Homo sapiens: one gene and its partner. The protein of the gene in region 1 purifies or fractionates together with the protein of each later gene. This does not show direct contact. Each region holds a gene or a part of one and is shown on either strand. Other genes may lie near its edges.

The links.
Region 2: the proteins of CCDC127 (region 1) and VPS33A purify together in Homo sapiens (co-immunoprecipitation; 2 studies listed by BioGRID and IntAct, with this or other methods). This does not show direct contact.

Annotation. Positions count from the first base shown.
Region 1 is NC_000005.10:207,666-215,203, reverse strand, and holds part of CCDC127 (coiled-coil domain-containing protein 127), read left to right. Parts: intron 1-7,538.
Region 2 is NC_000012.12:122,249,065-122,256,602, reverse strand, and holds part of VPS33A (vacuolar protein sorting-associated protein 33A), read left to right. Parts: intron 1-3,059; coding exon of another isoform or gene 3,060-3,137; exon of another isoform or gene 3,138-3,741; intron 3,742-5,503; coding exon 5,504-5,620; intron 5,621-6,557; coding exon 6,558-6,732; intron 6,733-7,538.

The DNA.
Region 1 (7,538 bases):
GTGTTACGATGTGTTTGAGGTTCTGTTGCACATAGGAGCGTTAACCAGCCCCTAGTGTAGTCTAGAAGAAGAGGCAGACATATGAATACTTGATAAGCGCTATTGGTTGATTTATTGATGAGAGGCTAGTTTTGTCCTGATCACTCGCTTCATTTACTAGAATTTTTTTTTTTTTTCGAGACGGAGTCTTGCCCTGTCGCCAGGCTGGAGTGCAGTGGCGCGATCTCGGCTTGCTGCAACCTCTGACTCCCTGGTTCTAGTGATTCTCCTGCCTCAGCCTCCCGAGTAGCTGGGATTACAGGCGCCCCTCACCACGTCCAGCTAATTTTTGTATTTTTAGTAGAGACGGGGTTTCACCACATTGGCCAGGATGGTCTCGATCTCCTGACCTCATGATCTGCCCGCCTCGGCCTCCCAAAGTGCTGGGGTTACAGGTGTGAGCCACCGTGCCCAGCCCATTTACTAGATTTTTACTTAACATAACATAGAAATGTGTGTAATTGTGCTTGCCCGAAAGAGCAGTCCCTGGAGAAATTCTTACCCTGAGTAGCTCCCAGGGGAGAATATTCAGTATTTCAGCACTCCAGAGGGCTTCTCTCTCTTCACACCTCCTCTGTCATTCTGCTTCCCCCCTTTTCTCTCAGTCTTCTTGATTGCCCTTTCCCCATCTCTCTCTCCGTGCTTTTCCCATCTCTCCGTGCTTTCTCCCCTCTAGTGTTCCTGTACCTCCTGTTTCCTCCCCTGACCCAGAAAACATAGTTTTAGAGCTGAAAGGGACTGGTTGAGTTCACTGGGCCCAACTCAGTTTCTTTTAATTAAATATTTTATTTTGGGGTCATGTAAATCACATGCAGTTGTCATCAGTAATGCAGAGAGCCCGTGTACCCTCTACCCAGCTTTCCCCAGTGGAAGCATCTGCAAAACGATAGTGCAGTGTCACAGCCAAGACATCTGCCAGGATGCGGTCAAGATACCCCAATCCCTGGGGCCTCACGTGCTGCCCTGTGTACCGCCCCTCCCTCCATAGCCCCCGGCAGCTACTGATCTGTTCTTCATCTCCAGAACTTTGTCATTTCAAGAATGTTATGTAAATGGAATCAAACAGTATATAACCTTTCGGGTTGACTTTTTTCATTCAGCATAACCCCCTGAGGTCCATGCAGATTGTTGCTGTATCAGTAGTTCATAGATAGTTTCATTGCTGAGTCGTGTTTTATGACATGGACGTACCACAGTGTGTTTAACCACTGAAAGACATCTGGGTCCTTTCCAGTTTTCAGCTGTTATGAATAAAGCTCTTATAAACATTCTTGTGTAGGTTTTTGTGTCGATGTAAGTTTTCATTTCTCTCGGATAAAGGGCCAGAAGTGAAATTACTGGGTTTTATGGAGGTTGCACGTTTAGTTTTTTAAGAAGGGCTGAAATGTTTCCCGAGTTGCTGCACCGTTTTAGGTTCTCACCAGCAATGCAGAGCTGATCGGTTTCTCCACCTGGTCAGTATTTGGTGTTTCACTGCTGTCCCGTCTGCCCCATCCTGATGGGTGTGTGGTGCTGTCTCATCGTGGCTGCAGCGTGCAATGTCGAGCATCAGCGTGCTCACACTGCTGTCCCGTCTGCCCCATCCTGATGGGTGTGTGGTGCTGTCTCGTCGTGGCTGCAGTGTGCGATGTCGAGCATCAGCGTGCTCACACTGCTGTCCCGTCTGCCCCATCCTGATGGGTGTGTGGTGCTGTCTCGTCGTGGCTGCAGTGTGCGATGTCAAGCATCAGTGTGCTCACACTGCTGTCCAGTCTGCCCCATCATGATGGGTGTGTGGTGCTGTCTCGTCATGGCTGCAGTGTGCGATGTCGAGCATCAGCGTGCTCACACTGCTGTCCCGTCTGCCCCATCGTGATGGGTGTGTGGTGCTGTCTCGTCGTGGCTGCAGTGTGCGATGTCGAGCATCAGTGTGCTCACACTGCTGTCCCGTCTGCCCCATCCTGATGGGTGTGTGGTGCTGTCTCGTCGTGGCTGCAGTATTCGATGTCGAGCATCAGTGTGCTCACACTGCTGTCCCGTCTGCCCCATCGTGATGGGTGTGTGGTGCTGTCTCATCGTGGCTGCAGTGTGCGATGTCGAGCATCAGCGTGCTCACACTGCTGTCCCGTCTGCCCCATCCTGATGGGTGTGTGGTGCTGTCTCATCGTGGCTGCAGTGTGCGATGTCAAGCATCAGCGTGCTCACACTGCTGTCCCGTCTGCCCCATCCTGATGGGTGTGTGGTGCTGTCTCGTCGTGGCTGCAGTGTGCAATGTCGAGCATCTCAGCGTGCTCACATTGCTGTCCCGTCTGCCCCATCCTGATGGGTGTGTGGTGCTGTCTCATCGTGGCTGCAGTGTGCAATGTCGAGCATCTCAGCATGCTCACATTGCTGTCCCGTCTGCCCCATCCTGATGGGTGTGTGGTGCTGTCTCATCGTGGCTGCAGTGTGCGATGTCGAGCATCAGCGTGCTCACACTGCTGTCCCGTCTGCCCCATCCTGATGGGTGTGTGGTGCTGTCTCATCGTGGCTGCAGTGTGCGATGTCAAGCATCAGCGTGCTCACACTGCTGTCCCGTCTGCCCCATCCTGATGGGTGTGTGGTGCTGTCTCGTCGTGGCTGCAGTGTGCAATGTCGAGCATCTCAGCGTGCTCACATTGCTGTCCCGTCTGCCCCATCCTGATGGGTGTGTGGTGCTGTCTCATCGTGGCTGCAGTGTGCAATGTCGAGCATCTCAGCGTGCTCACATTGCTGTCCAGTCTGCCCCATCATGATGGGTGTGTGGTGCTGTCTCGTCATGGCTGCAGTGTGCGATGTCGAGCATCAGCGTGCTCACATTGCTGTCCCGTCTGCCCCATCGTGATGGGTGTGTGGTGCTGTCTCATCGTGGCTGCAGTATTCGATGTCGAGCATCAGCGTGCTCACACTGCTGTCCCGTCTGCCCCATCGTGATGGGTGTGTGGTGCTGTCTCATCGTGGCTGCAGTGTGTGATGTCGAGCATCAGCGTGCTCACACTGCTGTCCCGTCTGCCCCATCCTGATGGGTGTGTGGTGCTGTCTCATCGTGGCTGCAGTGTGCGATGTCGAGCATCAGCGTGCTCACATTGCTGTCCCGTCTGCCCCATCCTGATGGGTGTGTGGTGCTGTCTCGTCGTGGCTGCAGTGTGCGATGTCGAGCATCAGTGTGCTCACACTGCTGTCCCGTCTGCCCCATCCTGATGGGTGTGTGGTGCTGTCTCGTCGTGGCTGCAGTGTGCGATGTCGAGCATCAGTGTGCTCACACTGCTGTCCCGTCTGCCCCATCCTGATGGGTGTGTGGTGCTGTCTCGTCGTGGCTGCAGTGTGCGATGTCGAGCATCTCAGCGTGCTCACATTGCTGTCCCGTCTGCCCCATCCTGATGGGTGTGTGGTGCTGTCTCATCGTGGCTGCAGTGTGCGATGTCGAGCATCAGCGTGCTCACACTGCTGTCCCGTCTGCCCCATCCTGATGGGTGTGTGGTGCTGTCTCGTCGTGGCTGCAGTGTGCGATGTCGAGCATCAGTGTGCTCACACTGCTGTCCCGTCTGCCCCATCCTGATGGGTGTGTGGTGCTGTCTCGTCGTGGCTGCAGTGTGCGATGTCGAGCATCAGTGTGCTCACACTGCTGTCCCGTCTGCCCCATCCTGATGGGTGTGTGGTGCTGTCTCGTCGTGGCTGCAGTGTGCAATGTCGAGCATCTCAGCGTGCTCACATTGCTGTCCCGTCTGCCCCATCCTGATGGGTGTGTGGTGCTGTCTCATTGTGGCTGCAGTGTGCGATGTCGAGCATCAGCGTGCTCACACTGCTGTCCCGTCTGCCCCATCCTGATGGGTGTGTGGTGCTGTCTCGTCGTGGCTGCAGTGTGCGATGTCGAGCATCAGTGTGCTCACACTGCTGTCCAGTCTGCCCCATCATGATGGGTGTGTGGTGCTGTCTCGTCATGGCTGCAGTGTGCGATGTCGAGCATCAGCGTGCTCACACTGCTGTCCCGTCTGCCCCATCGTGATGGGTGTGTGGTGCTGTCTCATCGTGGCTGCAGTATTCGATGTCGAGCATCAGCGTGCTCACACTGCTGTCCCGTCTGCCCCATCGTGATGGGTGTGTGGTGCTGTCTCATCGTGGCTGCAGTGTGTGATGTCGAGCATCAGCGTGCTCACACTGCTGTCCCGTCTGCCCCATCCTGATGGGTGTGTGGTGCTGTCTCATCGTGGCTGCAGTGTGCGATGTCGAGCATCAGCGTGCTCACAGTGCTGTCCCGTCTGCCCCATCCTGATGGGTGTGTGGTGCTGTCTCGTCGTGGCTGCAGTGTGCGATGTCGAGCATCAGTGTGCTCACACTGCTGTCCCGTCTGCCCCATCCTGATGGGTGTGTGGTGCTGTCTCGTCGTGGCTGCAGTGTGCAATGTCGAGCATCTCAGCGTGCTCACATTGCTGTCCCGTCTGCCCCATCCTGATGGGTGTGTGGTGCTGTCTCATCGTGGCTGCAGTGTGCGATGTCGAGCATCAGCGTGCTCACACTGCTGTCCCGTCTGCCCCATCCTGATGGGTGTGTGGTGCTGTCTCATCGTGGCTCTACTGTGCAGTGTTGAGCATCTTTTCTCATCGTGGCTCCAGGGTGTGATGTCGAGCACCTCTTCACGTGCTCATTGCCATCAGCGTATCCTCCTGATGAAATGAGTATTCTTGCCTTTCAGCCGTTTCCTAATAGGACTGTTTGTTTTTTAATGTTGAGTTTTGAGAGTTGTTAATATGTCTTAGATTCTAGTCCTTAGTTGCATATGTGGCTTGCAAGTATCCTCTCCCAGTCTGTAGCCTGTCTTTTCATTCTCTTCATAGGGGCATTTGCAGTGTAAAAGTTGTAATTTTGATGAAGGGCAGCTTATCATCGTTTCCTTTTATGAACCATGCTTTTTGTGGAAAGTCTAAGAATTCTGCCTAGCTCTAGATCCTGAAGGTTTTTTCTTCCTAAAGTTTTAGTTTTACATTTTACATTTAAGCCCTTACCCATTTGAGTTAATTTTGTTAATAAGGAGTAAGACTTTAGTTGTATTTCTTCTTTCCAGCCTGTTTGCCTTTGATTTCTTGTCTTGCCTTCCGGCACTAGCTGGAGCTTCTGGGACTCTGTTGGACGGTCCCTGACCTGAGAGAGAACACACTCAGCCTCTCCCAGCTAAGTACAGTGTCAGCTGCAGGTTTTCCGTAGATGCTGTTTATCAAGTCAAGGAAGCTCCCCTGTATTCCTGTTTTTCATGAATAGGTGTTGAATTTGGTCCGTTTTTTTTTGGTTTCAATTGATGGAATCGTGATTTTTCTTCATCAGCTTAGTAATGTGTTAGATTGCATTGATTTTTGAATATTGAACCCGTCTTTTGTCTCTGGAGCAATCCCCACGTGGCCGTGCTGTAGAATTAGTTTTATGTATTATGGAATGATGTTTGTGACCAGGCTGCAAAGGATTGTTTCTGTGTTTGTGGGGGAGTCCTATGTGTTGTGGAATGATGTGTGTGGCCAGGCTGCGAAGGGTTGTTTCTGTGTTTGTGGGGGAGTCCTATGTGTTGTGGAATGATGTGTGTGGCCAGGCTGCGAAGGGTTGTTTCTGTGTTTGTGGGGGAGTCCTATGTGTTGTGGAATGATGTGTGTGGCCAGGCTGCGAAGGGTTGTTTCTGTGTTTGTGGGGGAGTCCTATGTGTTGTGGAATGATGTGTGTGGCCAGGCTGCGAAGGGTTGTTTCTGTGTTTGTGGGGGAGTCCTATGTGTTGTGGAATGATGTGTGTGGCCAGGCTGCGAAGGGTTGTTTCTGTGTTTGTGGGGGAGTCCTATGTGTTGTGGAATGATGTGTGTGGCCAGGCTGCGAAGGGTTGTTTCTGTGTTTGTGGGGGAGTCCTATGTGTTGTGGAATGATGTGTGTGGCCAGGCTGCGAAGGGTTGTTTCTGTGTTTGTGGGGGAGTCCTATGTGTTGTGGAATGATGTGTGTGGCCAGGCTGCGAAGGGTTGTTTCTGTGTTTGTGGGGGAGTCCTATGTGTTGTGGAATGATGTGTGTGGCCAGGCTGCGAAGGGTTGTTTCTGTGTTTGTGGGGGAGTCCTGATTCCGTCATTCCAGTTTTTCTTCGAGTTGTTCTGTTTTTCAGTTCCAGAATTTTCATTTGGTTCTTCTTTACGTCTTGTGTTTATTTTCTTAGGCTCTCTGTCATGGCAGCTGCTCTGAAGTCCTTGTCAGATGATACTGCCATCTCTCATCCAGGTCTTGGCATCTGTTGATCATCTTTGTTCATTTAGTGTGACCCGTCCTGGCCCTTGGTACTAGGAGTGATTTTCTGTTTGAACCTGCGCATTTGGGGCATTACGTGCTGAAACACTGGTTTTTATTTAAACCTTCGGTCTTAGCTGGCTTTCTTGAATGGCGCCCTGGCAGGGGAAGGGCCACGCAGCCTCCTTACTGCCAGGTGAGGATGGAAGTCCAGGCTCCCCACTCAGCCTCTGGCCCCCATGGGCCCCCGAGGAAAGGATGGGAGTTCCAGCCCCCCGGCCTCTACTGGTGCCCCCCGGCTGGGAAGGCCTCAGCACTGCTCCCCACATGGCTCCCCCCGACCCCACCCTGTGTTTGCTGCTGGGTGGGAGTGGGAGCCTCAGCTCCATCCAGCCTTTGCCCATGTGGGTGGAGGTGGGGCCGTAGTTTTTTCTGTGTTATTTGGCTGATGTAGAGTGATTACTGTCGGAACATTTTCTCTCTTGCCAGGCCTCTATCGTGGTCCTTTGGGCAGAGACAGCAGGCTTTGTTGGAGTTTCTTTTTTTGTCTGCACCCGTTGAGATTTCCAATTGACTGTGTCTTCAGCTCCAAGTATGGGATCTATGAGGCAAAATGAAAATCTAGAGGACTTGCCCCCGTGTTGTTCCTGGGGTCCCAAGGACCCAAGCCAGTCTGCCTTCTCTCCATCTTTCAGAGTCATCTTGTTTTACAGATGATGTCCAGGATTTTTAGTTTACTTAGAAGAAGAATAGGGAGGATGTCTACTCCGTCTTCCCAGAAGCAGGAGTCTCACCGGAAACTGAGGCTTTGAAAAGTTGCGTGTGCCCAAAGTCTGTCAGGTCAGACTCGGAATTCAGGTTTTCCTGACATCCAGCCTGTCCTGCCACACTTTCCTCTGCAAAGCTGCCTGTAGCCTCCCCTGCCTGGCTCCCTGTCCAGCCAAAAACTTACCAGTAACCACAGCCTGTATGGTGGGGTCTGACGTTTAACCGTGTGCGTCATTGTCTGTGTTAGTTTTCCAGTGGTTTGGTGTGTCAATGATGTGACTCGACTGAGATCGTCCCCAGATTGTATCAGGGAGCAGCTCCCTGTCTCCTCTTGATTCGGCGCCACCCCTCGCAGCCCCACCTCCACCCCTCCACACCTCCTGGATGCTCTTAAGTCACGTTAATTCCTTTGACTCCTCGTGGCTGCAGAACATATCCCGTGCTCCTTGTCCGGGTCTCCTGGGGGCCCCTCTCATTTGGCACCTG
Region 2 (7,538 bases), on another chromosome or scaffold:
CTAGAACTTTTTTTTTTTTAATTGTTTTTGAGACAGATTCTCACTCAGTCACCCAGGCTGGGATGCAGTGGCACAATCTCGTCTCACCGCAACTTCCACCTCCCCAGTTCAAGCAATTCTCCCGTCTTAGCTATCCGAGTAGCTGGGATTACAGGAACGCGCCACCACGCCAGGCTAATTTTTGTATTTGTAGTGGAGATGGGGTTTCACCATGTTGGCCAGGCTGGTCTCGAACTCCTGACCTCAAGAGATCTGCCTGCCTCAGCCTCCCAAACTGCTGGGACTGCAGGTGTGAGCCACTGTGCCTGGCCTTTTTTTCTTCTTACCAATAAAATACTTCGAAGGTAGAGACTAGAACTTTAGGGAACCGCTGGTATAGTACATAAAATTATTGGAATCTTTTTTTCCCCATTGTGTTGTTACAGAGATCACCTCGTTAAAAGAGTTAATTTGTTGACAGTTTTCACAAAAGGGGGAAAAATGAAACTTATTTAAAAAAATAAAATAGGCCAGGCACAGTGGTTCATGCCCGTAATCCCAGCACTTTGGGAGACCAAGGTGGGAGGATCACTTAAGGCCAGGAGTTCGAGACCAGCCTGGGCAACAGAGTGAGGCCCTGTCTTTACAAAAAACTAGCCACACGTGGTGATGTGCACCTGTCATTCCAGTAACTCAGGAGGCTGAGGCAGAAGGATCACTTGAGCCCAGGAGGTTGAGGCTGCAGGGCGCTGTGATCACACCAGTGCACTCCTGCCTGGGTGACAGAGTGAGACCCGGCCACAGAAAAAGCGAAAAATAAAAAAGTTAATCTGGGGCAGTAGAAGTCAGTGGCACCACCGACTAATCCTATAACCAGGGGACTTTCTTGGCTTTTTTTTTTTTTTTTTTTTTTTTTGAGACGGAGTCTCACTCTTGTTCCCCAGGCTGGAGTGCTGTGTGGCGCAATCTCGGCTCACTGCAACCTCCGCCTCCCAGGTTCAAGCGATTCTCCTGCCTCAGCCTCCCGAGTAGTTGGAATTACAGGTGCCCGCCACTGCACCTGGCTAATTTTTTGTATTTTTAGTAGAGACGGGGTTTCACCATGTTGGCCAGGCTGGTCTCGAACTCCTGACCTCATGATCTGCTCATCTCGGCCTCCCAGAGTGCTGGGATTACAGGCGTGGGCCATTGCGCCCAACCCTCTTGGCTCTTTTGTACCTTGTTCCCTAGTGGTTTGCTTACACGAAATCCTACCTGATGGTAATATAGATTTCCTTCTAACATTTTATAGGAAAATTTCAATATACCAAAAAATTGAATTGTACAGTGAACACCTGTCTATCCACCACTTATCTTCTGGATTAACAGTTTTCTATATGTGCTTTATCACATACCTGTGATGGTATACTCATTTTTAATTAATCCATATTTGTGTATTTAATGGGAATTGGTAGCAGCCGAAGCAAACTCTCTTGGAGTGACAAAATCTGTGCAGAGGAGAAATAACCTGTTTATTTTACTTATGATTTGTAAGAAAGGGCAGAACTATTTTCTTTTTTTTTTTTTTTTCCTTGAAACTGAGTTTCACTCTGCCGCCTAGGCTGGAGTGCGTTGGTGCCATCTCGTCTCATTGCAGCCTCCACCTCCTGGGTTCAAGTGATTCTCCTGCCTCAGCCTCCTGAGTAGCTGGGACTACAGGCGCCAGCCACCACACTGGCTAATTTTTTGTGTTTTTGGTAGAGACAGGGTTTCACCATGTGGCCCAAGCTGGTCTCGAACTCCTGACCTCAGGCGATCCACCGCCTCAGCCTCCCAAAGTGCTGGGATTACAGGCGTGAGCCACCGCGCCTGGCCAGAACTATTTTCTACTGACAATTTCAAGCCTTTGGCTTTGTATATTCACCTAAGATGCTGTTTTGGCCGGACATGGTGGCTCCTACCTGCCAGCACTTTGGGAGGCTGAGGTGGGCGGATCATCTATGGTCAGTAGTTCGAGACCAGGCTGGGCAACATAGCAAAACTCCATCTCTACTAAAAATAAAACAAAATTAAAATTAGCTGGGTGTGGTGGTGCATGCCTGTAATCCCAGCTACTTCGCAGACTGAGGCAGGAGAATCACTTGAGCCCAGGAGGCAGGGGTTGCAGTGAGCCAAGATTGCACCACTGTACTCCAGCCTGGGCAACAGAGCGAGAGCCTATCTCAAAAAAAAAAAAAAAGGCGGGGGGGTGGATTGGGGGAGTTAGAGGAAGTGGCAGAAAGAAAAAGAAAGGACTTTATCCGGATGGCACAGCTAAGAGCTTCGACCTAAGAGCCTAATGTTAAAGTCAGCCCCGATTTTTGGTGGAGATGACGTTAATCGTATTTCTGTGATTGGCTTCAGGAGGTACATCTAGATCTCTCTGTGTTTTGAGTTACAGTTGTGACCATCTATGTCATTGTTCTGTGTAAAATGTGGGAATTAGAGTTCTGCCCAGTCAAATGCTCAATAACATTGCTTAAGGTACTGTGGCCTTTACGCGTATATATAAAAATCAGCATATATAAAACCTGCCTCTTGTATGGTATTCTGCAAGGTATTCTGCTGTGTGGGTATGTGAGACTTTGGGGTTAAAAAAATGCGCATTTAAATGTTAAGGGTATTGGGCTGGGTGTGGTGGCACTTTGGGCGGCCAAGGCAGACGGATCACCTGAGGTTAGGGGTTCGAGACCAGCCTCGGCAACGTGGTGAAACCCCATCTCTATTAAAAACACAAAAACTTAGCCAGGCATGGTGGTGGGCACCTATGATCCCAGCTACTCAGGAGGCTGAGGCAGGAGAATCACTTGAACTCGGGAGGTGTAGGTTGCAGTGAGCTGAGGTTGCCCGACTGCACTCCAGCCTGGGTGATAGAGCAAGACTCTGTCTCAAAAAAGGAAAAACAACCAAGATTAAAATCTGTTGTTAACTTTTACATCTTTTAAAAAATATTGTAAAAGAGATGTCTTTGTAGTAGTACAACTTAAAAAAATTAAGTAAAATATGAATGCTATTTGGAGAGGAGTTCCTTAATGTCTTTTTTTTTTTTTTTTTTGAGACAGTCTTGCTCTGTTGCCCCGGCTGGAGTGCAGTGGCACAATCTCAGCTCACTGCAACCTCCACCTCCTGAGTTCAAGTGATTCTGCTGCCTCAGTCACCTGAGTAGCTGGGATTACAGGCACATGCCACCACACCTGGCTAATTTTTGTATTTTTAGTAGAGAAGGGGTTTCACCATTTTGGTCAGGCTGGTCTAGAACTCCCGACCTCATGATCCTCCCCGCTCAGCCTCCCAAAGTGCTGGGATTACAGGCGTGAGCCACCGCACCCAGCCCTCAATGTCTTTTGCCCTTGAACGTTCATCTGATCTGGAGTTTTAAGTGGTTTTGCCAAAAAGCGTGTCTTTTGACATATTCTCGATGGTCTGCCATATTCAGGGAAACGTTAAAATATACCACACTTGAAAGAGTAGTCCGGCGACACTCTCAATAATAACCAAACGCTCCCCACCATGTCTGCCATCCTTCCTCCCTGGGGCAGAGGGCCTGACAAGTGACAACCCCGCTCTCTCTTCCTCAGGCCCTGGACCCTCAGGGCCCCCTCAGTTCTGGCTGTGGACAGCAGGGACATGTTGGGTTGGTAGGGGTGGAGGGAATTGATAAAATGTACCATATTGACTTATGAGTGGATAATGGTTGTAAAAAAACCTAAATAATTCCAAATAAAAGCTAACTGTTACTGAGCATTTGCTGTATGTTTCAGGTACTGGGATTAAATGCTTTACATGTATTTTTCTCATTTAATACTTGCCCTATGTGGACTATACTCCCTTCTACATATGAATAAATTGAGGCACAAAGAGATTCTCTAACTGGCCCAGGGCACAGCTAGTAAGTGACACAGTTGGATTCAGAACAAGGCAATCTGAGTCTAGAACCTGTGTTTTGATCCACCTGTATCAAAAGTGACTGCTTCCCTCCTCTCACCTCACAGGTGGTTTTTTTCTCTCTCTCTTTTTTTTTTAAAGAGATGGGGTCGGCTGGGCGCGGTGGCTCACGCCTGTAATCCCAGCACTTTGGGAGGCCGAGGTGGGCGGATCACGAGGTCAGGAGATCGAGACCATCAGGGCTAACATGGTGAAACCCCGTCTCTACTAAGAAATACAAAAAAATTAGCCAGGCGTGGTGGCGGGCGCCTGTAGTCCCAGCTACTTGGGAGGCTGAGGCAGGAGAATGGTGTGAACCCAGTAGGTGGAGCTTGCAGTGAGCCGAGATCGCGCCACTGCACTCCAGCCAGGGCGACAGAGCGAGACTCCATCTCAAAAAAAAAATAAAAATAAAAATAAAAAAAGAGATGGGGTCTTGCTCTGTTGCCCAGAGGGGAGTGTGGCGGTGCGAACATAGCTCATTGCAGCCTCAAATCCCTGGGCTCCGGTGATCCTCCTGCCTTACCCTCCTGAGTAGCTCAGATACAGATGCATGCTACTATCCCTGGCTAATTATTTAATTTTTTATAGATACAGGGTCTCACTATGTTGCCCAGTCTGGTCTCAAACTCAAGAGCTCAAGCAATCCTCCTATCTCAGCCTCCCAAAGTGCTGTGATTACAGCCATGAGCCACTGCACCTAGCCTTCCCAGGTGGTTTTGTGTGTATTTTGGAGATTCTTTTTTCTTTTTTTTTTTTTTATACTTTAAGTTCTAGGGTACATGTGCACAACATGCAGGTTTGTTACATATGTATACATGTGCCATGTTGGTGTGCTGCACCCATTAACTCATCATTTACATTAGGTATATCTCCTAATGCTATCCCTCCCCCCTTCCCCCACCCCACGACAGGCCCTGGTGTGTGATGTTCCCCTTCCTGTGTCCAAGTGTTCTCATTGTTCAATTCCCACCTATGAGTGAGAACATGCGGTGTTTGTTTTTTTGTCCTTGTGATAGTTTGCTGAGTTGGAGGTCCTTTTTTCAATGCAAAAATATATATTTTTTATAAAATGAGATCATACTCAACAGATTGTGGCCTTCAGTTGTCAGTTGTCATGAAAATCTGCCTCATCCTTTTTGAAAACAATAAAGTATTCGTCCTGTGGTCTTTTGCATTTCTGGGTATTAGCATGTCGCTCTCCCAGCATGTCCTACCAGAGTTTACTCTCACCAGTGAATGGGAACCCATCGTTCAGTGTAAGTCTGTATTCTTCCGTCTTTTATTTAAGAGCTGATTCAGAAGAGCTGGCATGCTGGGTGAACAGTTTTCTCCCAGAAGCCCCGGCTCTGCCCAGGAGAGGTGCTTCCACGGCTGCACCCACCCTGGGGCTGCCAGCCTCAGCGCCTGGTCTGACAGGCAGCAGTTTTGGAAAATGAACTTGAGTCCCCAATTTTCCTGGCACAGTGTGAAATAACTGGAAATGATTTTATTGTCTGTCGCTGCACCCCAGCCCCAGGAACAGAGATGGGCCCCTGGGAGGCCCCCATGGCCTGGCAATAATTGGCCTTTTCCCTCACAGGAGTGCTACCTGGAGGGTGACCAGACGAGCCTGTACCACGCAGCCAAGGGGCTGATGACCCTGCAAGCTCTGTATGGAACGATCCCCCAGATCTTTGGGAAAGGAGAATGCGCTCGGGTGAGAACCGGCTGCTTTGTGGTGGTAAAGGAGGGCCCTTCACACCCCAAAAGGGAGGAGGAACGGGAAGCTCCTTACAAACAAATTCAGTTGATCTTAATTATTTATGAATACTGTACTCATGAATTTGCCTACTGATTAAAATGCACTTATAACCCTCCAAGTCAGTACTCATGGTGCTTTTGTCGGCGTGCACAGTGGTGACAGTTTGAGTAACCACTGCGCATGTTCCCAACTGAGGCAGCTGACACTCCACCTTCCCATTTCAGCTCTCAGACTGCAAACAAGTGTACTTTTCACAGTCTCACTGTCATATTTTCCACACGTGTGTACTTTTTTTGGTGATTTCACTGTTTAAAATGGCCTGCAAATGTAGGACTGAGGTGCAGTCGGGTGTCTTGTGCACAAGAAGGCTGTGGTGTGCCTGGCGGAGACATTACGTGTGTCAGAGACGCTTCGTTCAGGCACGAGTCACAGAGCTGCTGGCTGTCAGTTCAGTGTGAGTGATCAACAATTATGTTAAGTCAGGCATCTTTAAGCAGAAACACATATAAAACTGGGTTACGTATTGATCAATTGACAGAAACGTTGAGACCAGAGGCTCCCAGGAACCTAAGTCTGCGTTTCTCCTAGGAACAGTGGTTCCATCTTCGCTAATTTAGTGTTTGCAGTGACTTCATAGAACATAACTACTGCGAATCACAAGAATAGACTGACCTGATTTTATGCCTCATTGGCAAATGGCAGCTGCCTTGGTGCAAGTGTCGGGATGGGTGCCAACAGCAAGGTGCTTTTCTAGAGCTGCTTATTTCTAAGCAATGCACTCTTCCAGTTTTTCTCCTTTTTTACTTTTTTGATTGTCTTTCTGGTTTTAGACAAATTTTAAAATCTGCTTGTTCCCAGGGGGGCCCCACCTCATCCAATGTTTTGTTTCCAGCAAGTGGCCAATATGATGATCAGGATGAAGAGAGAGTTTACAGGAAGCCAGAATTCAATATTTCCTGTTTTTGATAATCTCTTGTTGCTTGATCGGAATGTGGATTTATTAACACCTCTTGCCACTCAGCTGACATATGAAGGACTCATTGATGAAATTTATGGCATTCAGAACAGTAAGTACATGACATCTGTTTTCACTAATAGGTAATATGAGAAGAATATCCTTTGTGGAGGCTACTGTTTGTATATTGCACACTTAAGCATAATTTAAAGTCAGAGATCCGATTTTAATGATTCAGAGTGTAGATTAATACAGACCTTTTTGTAAGCAATTTAGCAACACATAAAACTTTTCTAACCCTTGGCCAAAGAAAACCCAAAGCCTAAGAATGTGCCTTGAGGAATCATTCCAAAAAAGAGGATCAGTGAGGTTTGCATAAGAATTTCGATTTCCATTTTCTTACCAGAATTTTCCAAACAATCTCAGTGGTTGAGTACATTATGAAATATTATGGAACCACCTGGGTGTGGTGGCTCACACTTGTAATTCCAGCTCTTTGGGAAGCCAAGGCGGGCAGATCACTTGAGGTCAGGTGTTCAAGACCAGTCTGGCAAACATGGTGAGATGCCCGTCTCTACTAAAAATACAAAAAATTAGCTGAGTGTGGTGGCACATGCCTGTAGCCCCAGCTACTTGGGAGGCTGATATGGAGGAATTGCTTGAACCCGGGAGGAGGAGGTTGCAGTGAGCCGAGAGAGCGCCACTGCACTCCAGCCTGGCGACAGAGTGAGACTGTCTCAAAAAAAAAGAAAATATTTGGAACCATCAAAATAATAAATGTGGAACATGAAAAACTGCGTAGCCATGCCTATTTCAATTAGAGGTTGTTATATATGTGTCTGCATATGTATGTGTATTCCAAACTATATTTATAATATATTTATAAAAAATAACTAAGAATACCGTAAAAACTGGAAA